2 linked regions of the Homo sapiens genome follow. The protein of the gene in region 2 interacts with the protein of the main gene of each other region in a biochemical or structural test. Each region holds a gene or a part of one and is shown on either strand. Other genes may lie near its edges. The genes, in order: SRPK2 and F5.

Evidence for each region.
Region 1: of the proteins of F5 (region 2) and SRPK2, one has a biochemical effect on the other in vitro, tested with the Homo sapiens proteins (one large-scale study listed by BioGRID).

Annotation. Positions count from the first base shown.
Region 1 is NC_000007.14:105,126,668-105,130,488, forward strand, and holds part of SRPK2 (SRSF protein kinase 2), read right to left. Parts: intron 2,226-3,821; exon of another isoform or gene 2,119-2,225; intron 396-2,118; coding exon 326-395; intron 1-325. UniProt on the Homo sapiens protein: Serine/arginine-rich protein-specific kinase which specifically phosphorylates its substrates at serine residues located in regions rich in arginine/serine dipeptides, known as RS domains and is involved in the phosphorylation of SR splicing factors and the regulation of splicing.
Region 2 is NC_000001.11:169,537,681-169,541,501, reverse strand, and holds part of F5 (coagulation factor V preproprotein), read left to right. Parts: coding exon 1-1,208; intron 1,209-3,821. UniProt on the Homo sapiens protein: Central regulator of hemostasis. It serves as a critical cofactor for the prothrombinase activity of factor Xa that results in the activation of prothrombin to thrombin.

The sequences.
Region 1 (3,821 bases), on a different chromosome or scaffold from region 2:
CATCAATGGTCAAAAGGACCACATAGAGGCTTCAGGTCTGTATCATCTGTCTTCTCTCAGCCAGCTGGGTTCCTGCCCTGTGCAAGGCCAGGAAGAGCCGCTGGTGTAGGGCCCCTGAGGGCTCGCTGGAGTGCTGCCTGTGCTAGGCAGGCTCTGCCCATTCACTGAGACTGAGGGGGCATCAAACTCAAAGGAAAAGCATCTGAATTTGGTGTTTGAAAACCAAACACATGGCTCTATTTCAGTACAAAAATACAGTACTCTACAGAAGTTCAGGGCTGGCAGAAGACCTAGACCGAGGTATTCAGCAGGCACCAATACTCACCTTCGTCTCTGGAATAGTCTTCCCCAGAATGTGGTTCAAACAAATAATCTCCCGTTGCCAGCTCAAATGCCTAGGATACAACAGACGACATGCTAAGCACTTCAGAGACTGGCCCCCAAGTCAACAGCTTTTTCTCCTTATAGAAGAGACCGCCACTTTATGAAGATCTGAATCAAACAAAATAGCCTCCTGAAAGTGCTCAATACTAATTTTTTTCTTTCTTCCACATTCAAAGAAGTTTCAGAAGTATTTTTACATTTCTAAGGAAAGATATAAGAGCTATGTATTCTCTTCATTTTGCAGGAAGCAAAACCAAAACGTCAGTGAGTCAGCCGCACCTGCATGCAGGCCTGGCCAGAGCGCGGTATGCACTCTATAAATGGTAGAACGAGAGTTCAACCCAGGACTCAACAAGGCCCGTCTGACTCCAGCACCTGCCTCAACCACTATAATAGCCTTGGCCTCTGTATAGCAGACACTGCTGCGTCTTTTAGGCGAAGACCTTCATGTTTTAGTAACCAAGGACTATTTTCAGTATCTCATCAACCATTTTCATCATCATTTCATTCATTTCTGATTCAACCAAAGGAAAACCTGGAAACAAAAAAGACCCTCTTTGTCCCCAGGGCCAGAGGAAGCAGATGGTCTTGCAGACCCTTTTGTGGATGTCACGGAGCACTGGCTTCCTGGGTGGCCACTGGCTGTCCCTCAGCATGCCAGCATGTAGGGAACACATTTCCCTTGCTCACAAAAAAACCCTCAAAAACATGAGTTTAAGCTAGTAACAATATACAAAAATGGCAACTGCTACTGCTCTGCTGATCAAAGAGAATGTTTTAAAAGAGAAAAAAAGAATAAGCTAAATCCCATTTCTGGTTTTTCTCATAGCTGCTTCTATTCTGAACGGATCTTGCTGTCCCAAAAGGTGCTCAGAGGCCCAATCACTGATGCCTGTGGATCTGTGACTGCCCTCCCCATTCCCGCCCCAAGGAGCCAATACTGGGGAAACTTCACTGCATCAACCTACCTTCTTTTTCTTTCAATGACCACACAGTGCTGGAAAGGCACCTTTAAGGGAAGGCTCACCTGCCTGGGTGAGGGGCCACCTCTCCTGGCACTGTCTTTAACAAACCAAGAGTGAGTGCAGTCAGCCCAGGACCACATCTTTTCACCTTTTTTAAAAAAAAAGACTGCCTGTCAATCACTTGAAGGAAGGAAGGATGGTGACAAGATGGCTTCCAGCTGACCGAGCGATAAGCATTAATTTATGAACTCAGGATCCCTGCCCTGAACCTGGCATAGGTCTGAGCAAGACACGGACATGTCACATCTCAGCATGGTGAGCTGGTGGTCCCAGCACTGTGGATGCACGAAGGCACCAGCAGAAAACCCAGGAAAGCCCTTATGTAGGGCCTCTCCTTTCCACCCAATAAACAAAGAAGACAGTTGGGCCAATCCCAGATGAGGGCAGGAAAACCTCATAACTGGCCCCAAATCCAAGTGGAACAACTAGATTACACACTCAATGGCCAGGAGAGTCCTTCTAGCCTGGGAAACAATCAATTCAGTATCTTACAAGCTAAGAGAAAAATCTGAAAACTCTAATGGGACAACGAGGACTTGAAAAGCCTGGATCAAGTTCCAAGCTGCTTTTCAACCCCTGCCTTGAGCCCTATGCTAACTAACTCTTTTAATTAATTTTCAAAATGACTTCAATCTGGTTGCATATATTTCTTTTTCTTTCATATTTTTTAGAGAAGGGACCTCGCTATGTTGTCCAGGCTGGACTCAACCTCTTGGGCTCCAGTGATCCTCTCTCAGCCTCCAGAGAAGCTGGGACTACAGGCGCACTACACTGCACCCAGCTTTGTACATATTTCTTACTGCCAAAATATGTCAGGTATGTATTCTTTGAAAAAAATCATCATTTTGATTAGCACCCACATATTCCCAAGAAAACATGTATAGAAGCCAATCAATGAAATAATTTTTTTTTGAGACGGAGTCTCGCTCTGTCACCCAGGCTGGAGTGCAGTGGCACAATCAATCTCAGCTCACTGCAAGCTCACACCATTCTCCTTGCCTCAGCCTCCTGAGTAGCTGGGACTACAGGCGCCCGCCACCACGCCCGGCTAATTTTTTGTAGAGACGGGATTTCACCATGTTAGCCTGACCTCGTGACCCGCCTGCCTCGGCCTCCCAAAGTGCTGGGATTACAGGCGTGAGCCACCAAGCCCGGCCAAATAATTTTCTTTTTTTTTAAAGGAACAAGGAAGATGAAGGCTGTAATGCTACCCATTTTTGATTCTTTGGAGAGTGGCAAGATTCTCTTAACAATACAACATGTACAACAGGGCAAATGCACATTACAATGAAAAAAACTCTGCCTTCAACTCAGTTACTCCCAGTATAACCTTCTATTGCCCAGGCTGAGTGCAGCGGCACAATTTTGGCTCACTACAACCTCTGCCTCCTGGGTTCAAGCGATTCTCCTGCCTCAGCCACCTGAGTAGCTAGGACTATAGGCACGTGCCACCATGCCCAGCTAATTTTTGTATTTTCAGTAGAGATGGGGTTTTGCCATGTTGGCCAGGCTGGTCTCAAACTCCTGGCCTCAAGTGATCTGCCTGCCTTGGCCTCCCAAAGTGCTGGGATTACAGGTGTGCATCACCTCGCTGGGCCTAAGTATAATCTTTATTATTATTTTTAATACCTGGGAACTCCGGATTCTTCTCTACTTGGCTCAATCCCCTCAAAGGGCTCTTCCCTGGACCTACTTGTTTCCAGATTCTTGGGAGACCAACTACCTCTCTCCTAAAACATTCTCCTATGCTGAAGTATCCCGATTCTGAACAAATAAGATCACGTATTTGTTCTGTAATGTGACCAGTGCCGAAGAAGTCTGGTGAAGTTTGTTGGAATGGCTTTTCTTGTTTCTATGGCACTGACCAGGACTCACCATGGAGTTCATAAAAAGTCCTATCAGAGACTCTAATACATAAATGCAGAGAAACCAATGCTTCAGCCACAAAGAAGTTTCAGATTATATGTACTTACACTGGAAGGTGTAAAGCTCAAAAAAAAAGTAAAACTCAAGAAAAGTAAAACAGATCCAAACCCAACATACCCTTGCTGTGGTCCCTCATTCTGTTGTGCTTCTCCAGCTGCAGAGCCTAAAGCTGTCCTCCCTGACAATAGCCAATGGCTACCACCCGTCAGCTCTCATTCCCAACAGAGTCTCTGTGAGATTTGATGCTATTTATAAATCTCAAAGACAGCCGGGCACAGTGTCACATCCCTGTAATCCCAGCACTATGGGAGACCAGGGCGGGTGGATCACTTGAGCTCAGGAGATCAAGACCAGCCTAGACAACGTGACAAACTCCATCTCTACAAAAAATACAAAAATTAGCCAGGCGTGGTGGCATGTGCCTGTAGTCCCAGCTACACCAGAGGCTGAGGTGGGAGGATCACTTGAGCTTGGGAAGTGGAGTCT
Region 2 (3,821 bases):
CCAGAACTCAGCCAGACAAACCTCTCTCCAGACCTCAGCCACACGACTCTCTCTCCAGAACTCATTCAGAGAAACCTTTCCCCAGCCCTCGGTCAGATGCCCATTTCTCCAGACCTCAGCCATACAACCCTTTCTCCAGACCTCAGCCATACAACCCTTTCTTTAGACCTCAGCCAGACAAACCTCTCTCCAGAACTCAGTCAGACAAACCTTTCTCCAGCCCTCGGTCAGATGCCCCTTTCTCCAGACCTCAGCCATACAACCCTTTCTCTAGACTTCAGCCAGACAAACCTCTCTCCAGAACTCAGCCATATGACTCTCTCTCCAGAACTCAGTCAGACAAACCTTTCCCCAGCCCTCGGTCAGATGCCCATTTCTCCAGACCTCAGCCATACAACCCTTTCTCTAGACTTCAGCCAGACAAACCTCTCTCCAGAACTCAGTCAAACAAACCTTTCCCCAGCCCTCGGTCAGATGCCCCTTTCTCCAGACCCCAGCCATACAACCCTTTCTCTAGACCTCAGCCAGACAAACCTCTCTCCAGAACTCAGTCAGACAAACCTTTCCCCAGACCTCAGTGAGATGCCCCTCTTTGCAGATCTCAGTCAAATTCCCCTTACCCCAGACCTCGACCAGATGACACTTTCTCCAGACCTTGGTGAGACAGATCTTTCCCCAAACTTTGGTCAGATGTCCCTTTCCCCAGACCTCAGCCAGGTGACTCTCTCTCCAGACATCAGTGACACCACCCTTCTCCCGGATCTCAGCCAGATATCACCTCCTCCAGACCTTGATCAGATATTCTACCCTTCTGAATCTAGTCAGTCATTGCTTCTTCAAGAATTTAATGAGTCTTTTCCTTATCCAGACCTTGGTCAGATGCCATCTCCTTCATCTCCTACTCTCAATGATACTTTTCTATCAAAGGAATTTAATCCACTGGTTATAGTGGGCCTCAGTAAAGATGGTACAGATTACATTGAGATCATTCCAAAGGAAGAGGTCCAGAGCAGTGAAGATGACTATGCTGAAATTGATTATGTGCCCTATGATGACCCCTACAAAACTGATGTTAGGACAAACATCAACTCCTCCAGAGATCCTGACAACATTGCAGCATGGTACCTCCGCAGCAACAATGGAAACAGAAGAAATTATTACATTGCTGCTGAAGAAATATCCTGGGATTATTCAGAATTTGTACAAAGGTTTGGCCAGTTTTCTCCTTTTTTATTCTCATTTTTCCATTACTGCTGAAAAAAGTAGCTACTACAATTCAGGGGGATAATTGTGGGCAAATTATACTAAGAACAGTGTGGTTCCCCTATTGCAAGTTGGCCTGTTCTTTTTCCTTTGTCAATTCCAAGATTGCTTCTTTACCTTAGATGACCCCTGGACAATATAAGAACAATCACTGTGAGAACTCTATAATATTCTGTAATTAAGCATTTTTCTGTGTCCTCTCCTCTTACTACCCATGTTTCTACTGACTCTTATTGCTCCAGGCAGAGCCCAACCTATCCATAGCTATATGCTAATCAATATGATTTAATTGAAGTTAGCCTCAAATCCAAACTCAAATATGATGTAGAAATCTCCTTTTTGCATTTACTTGTTTAGATCAGAATTTCTAAGAGATCCAAATCCCTTTTTTAAAAGAATATTTACAATTCAGTTTTGCTTAGGGGTAGAAAGCCATGTTGAACTGGGCTCTTTGTTCTGGGATGAAGATACAGAAAGAGAAGAGAGAGGAGGAAAGGAGCAAGGCTTAGTCAACTACAAATTCTCAGGGATATAGCATGATGACTGTGCATCAGCTGTCTAGATATGCCCACAGCTTTTACTAAAGCTGTTACACTAATCACTTAAAAAACCAAAGTGTAATTACAGTAGGCAAACACAATGTATGGTGTGACTTATGCATATGAGTTCATTAATCTGATGCCTGACATCTCCACATTAGAACTCTGTTTAAAACACCTTTTCCTATGACTTCCTATTTAAATGTTGCACTCAATACCACATGAGAACAACTAGCTACCTGAGTATTTCTAAGCAAGGCCCCGAGGGAGTGAGATGCAGGGCCTGTCCAGAGTGAATAGGGATGGAACCACCTTCAAAATCTTGTATTCCATTCAAGGCTCACAACCCACTTTTATGGCATTCGGAGTTGCTTTACCCACTCCCTTGTGTTCTGTGAGTTTGCATGTTATGCTCAGAGTCTGGAAAGATGGGATTAGTAGGGGAGGTAGACCAGAAGAAAGGCAGAAGGAGATTCTCTGTTGATGACTCACAGTATATAGCAAATATTATGGGTTTGATGGGTGAGTGTTTGGCTTGTTTCCACAGGCTTGGGAAATGTGAGAGTCAGTGGGAGAATTCGACATGCTTCAGTCCTAGACTGAGCCAATGAACTAGATGGAAATAATGTGCTTTATTTATTTATTTATAATTTGTAATTAAACTTTTTATTTTGGAACAAAAATAAAATAGATTCACATACAGTCAAGAGAAATAATACGGAGAGATCCTTTGGGTATCCTGAGTATTCTTTACCCAGTTTCTCCCAGGGGTAACATTTTGCAAATCTATAATACTATATCACAACCAGCACACTGATGTTGATACTGTCAAGACACAGAATGTTCACCATCACCATAAAAATCCCTCTCATTACCCCTTTATAGTCACATCTGCCTTCCTCCCACCATAGCCCTTCCTTATTCCCTGGCAACCAGTAGTCTGATCTCCATTTCTATAATTTTGTCATTTCAAGAATATTACATAAATGGAATCAGGCAACATGTAACCTTTGGGGACTGGTATTTTTTCACTCAGTATAATTCTCTGGAGATTCATCTGGTTATTGCATGTATTCCATTATATGGGTGTACCCCAGTTTTTTTGTTGTTGTTGTTTTATACACATTTATGGTGTAAACATGATGTTTTAATATATTTATAAATTGTGAATTGGCTAAATCAAGCTAATTAACCTATGCATTACCTCACATACTTTTTTGTGGTTAGAACACTTAAAATGTACTCAGCAATGTTAAAAATTCAGTGTGTTGTTATTAACTACAGTCACCATCTTATACAACAGATCTTCTAAATTTATTTCTTCTAACTGAATTTTATCTTTTGACCATTTTCTCAATGCTCCACCTCTGTATCCCTTTGTTAACCACTGTTCTACCTTCTGCTTCTATGAGCTCAATGTTTTTAGTTTCCACATTATAAGTGAGATCCTGCAGTACTTGTCTTTCTGTGCCTGGCTTATTTTATGTAACATAACGACCTCCTGGTTCAGTCATGTTGTCACAAATGGCATTTCTTCGTTTTCTTTTTTTTAAATGCTAAATAGTATTTCATTGTTTATGTAGATCACATTTAAGAAATCCATTCATTTGTTTATAGACATTTGGGTTGCTTCCCTATCTTGGCTAATGTGGCTAATGCTGCAGTGAACGTGGGACAGCAGATATCTCTTCAACATACTGATTTCATTTTCTTTGGGTATATACCCAAAAGTGGGATTGATGGATCATGTGGTAATTCTATTTTTAATTTTTAAAGGAACCTCCCATACTGTTTTCCATAATGGCTGTACTAATTTACACTCTCACCAAGAGTATACAAGAGTTCCCTTTTCTTCACATCCATGCCAACATTTATCTCTTGTCATTTTTATAATAGCCATCCTAACGGTGTGAGGTGAGCCCTCATTGTGATTTTAAATTGCATTTCTCTGATTATTAGTAATGTTGAGCATCTTTTCATATATTTGTTGGTCATTTGTATGTCTTCTTTTACGAAATG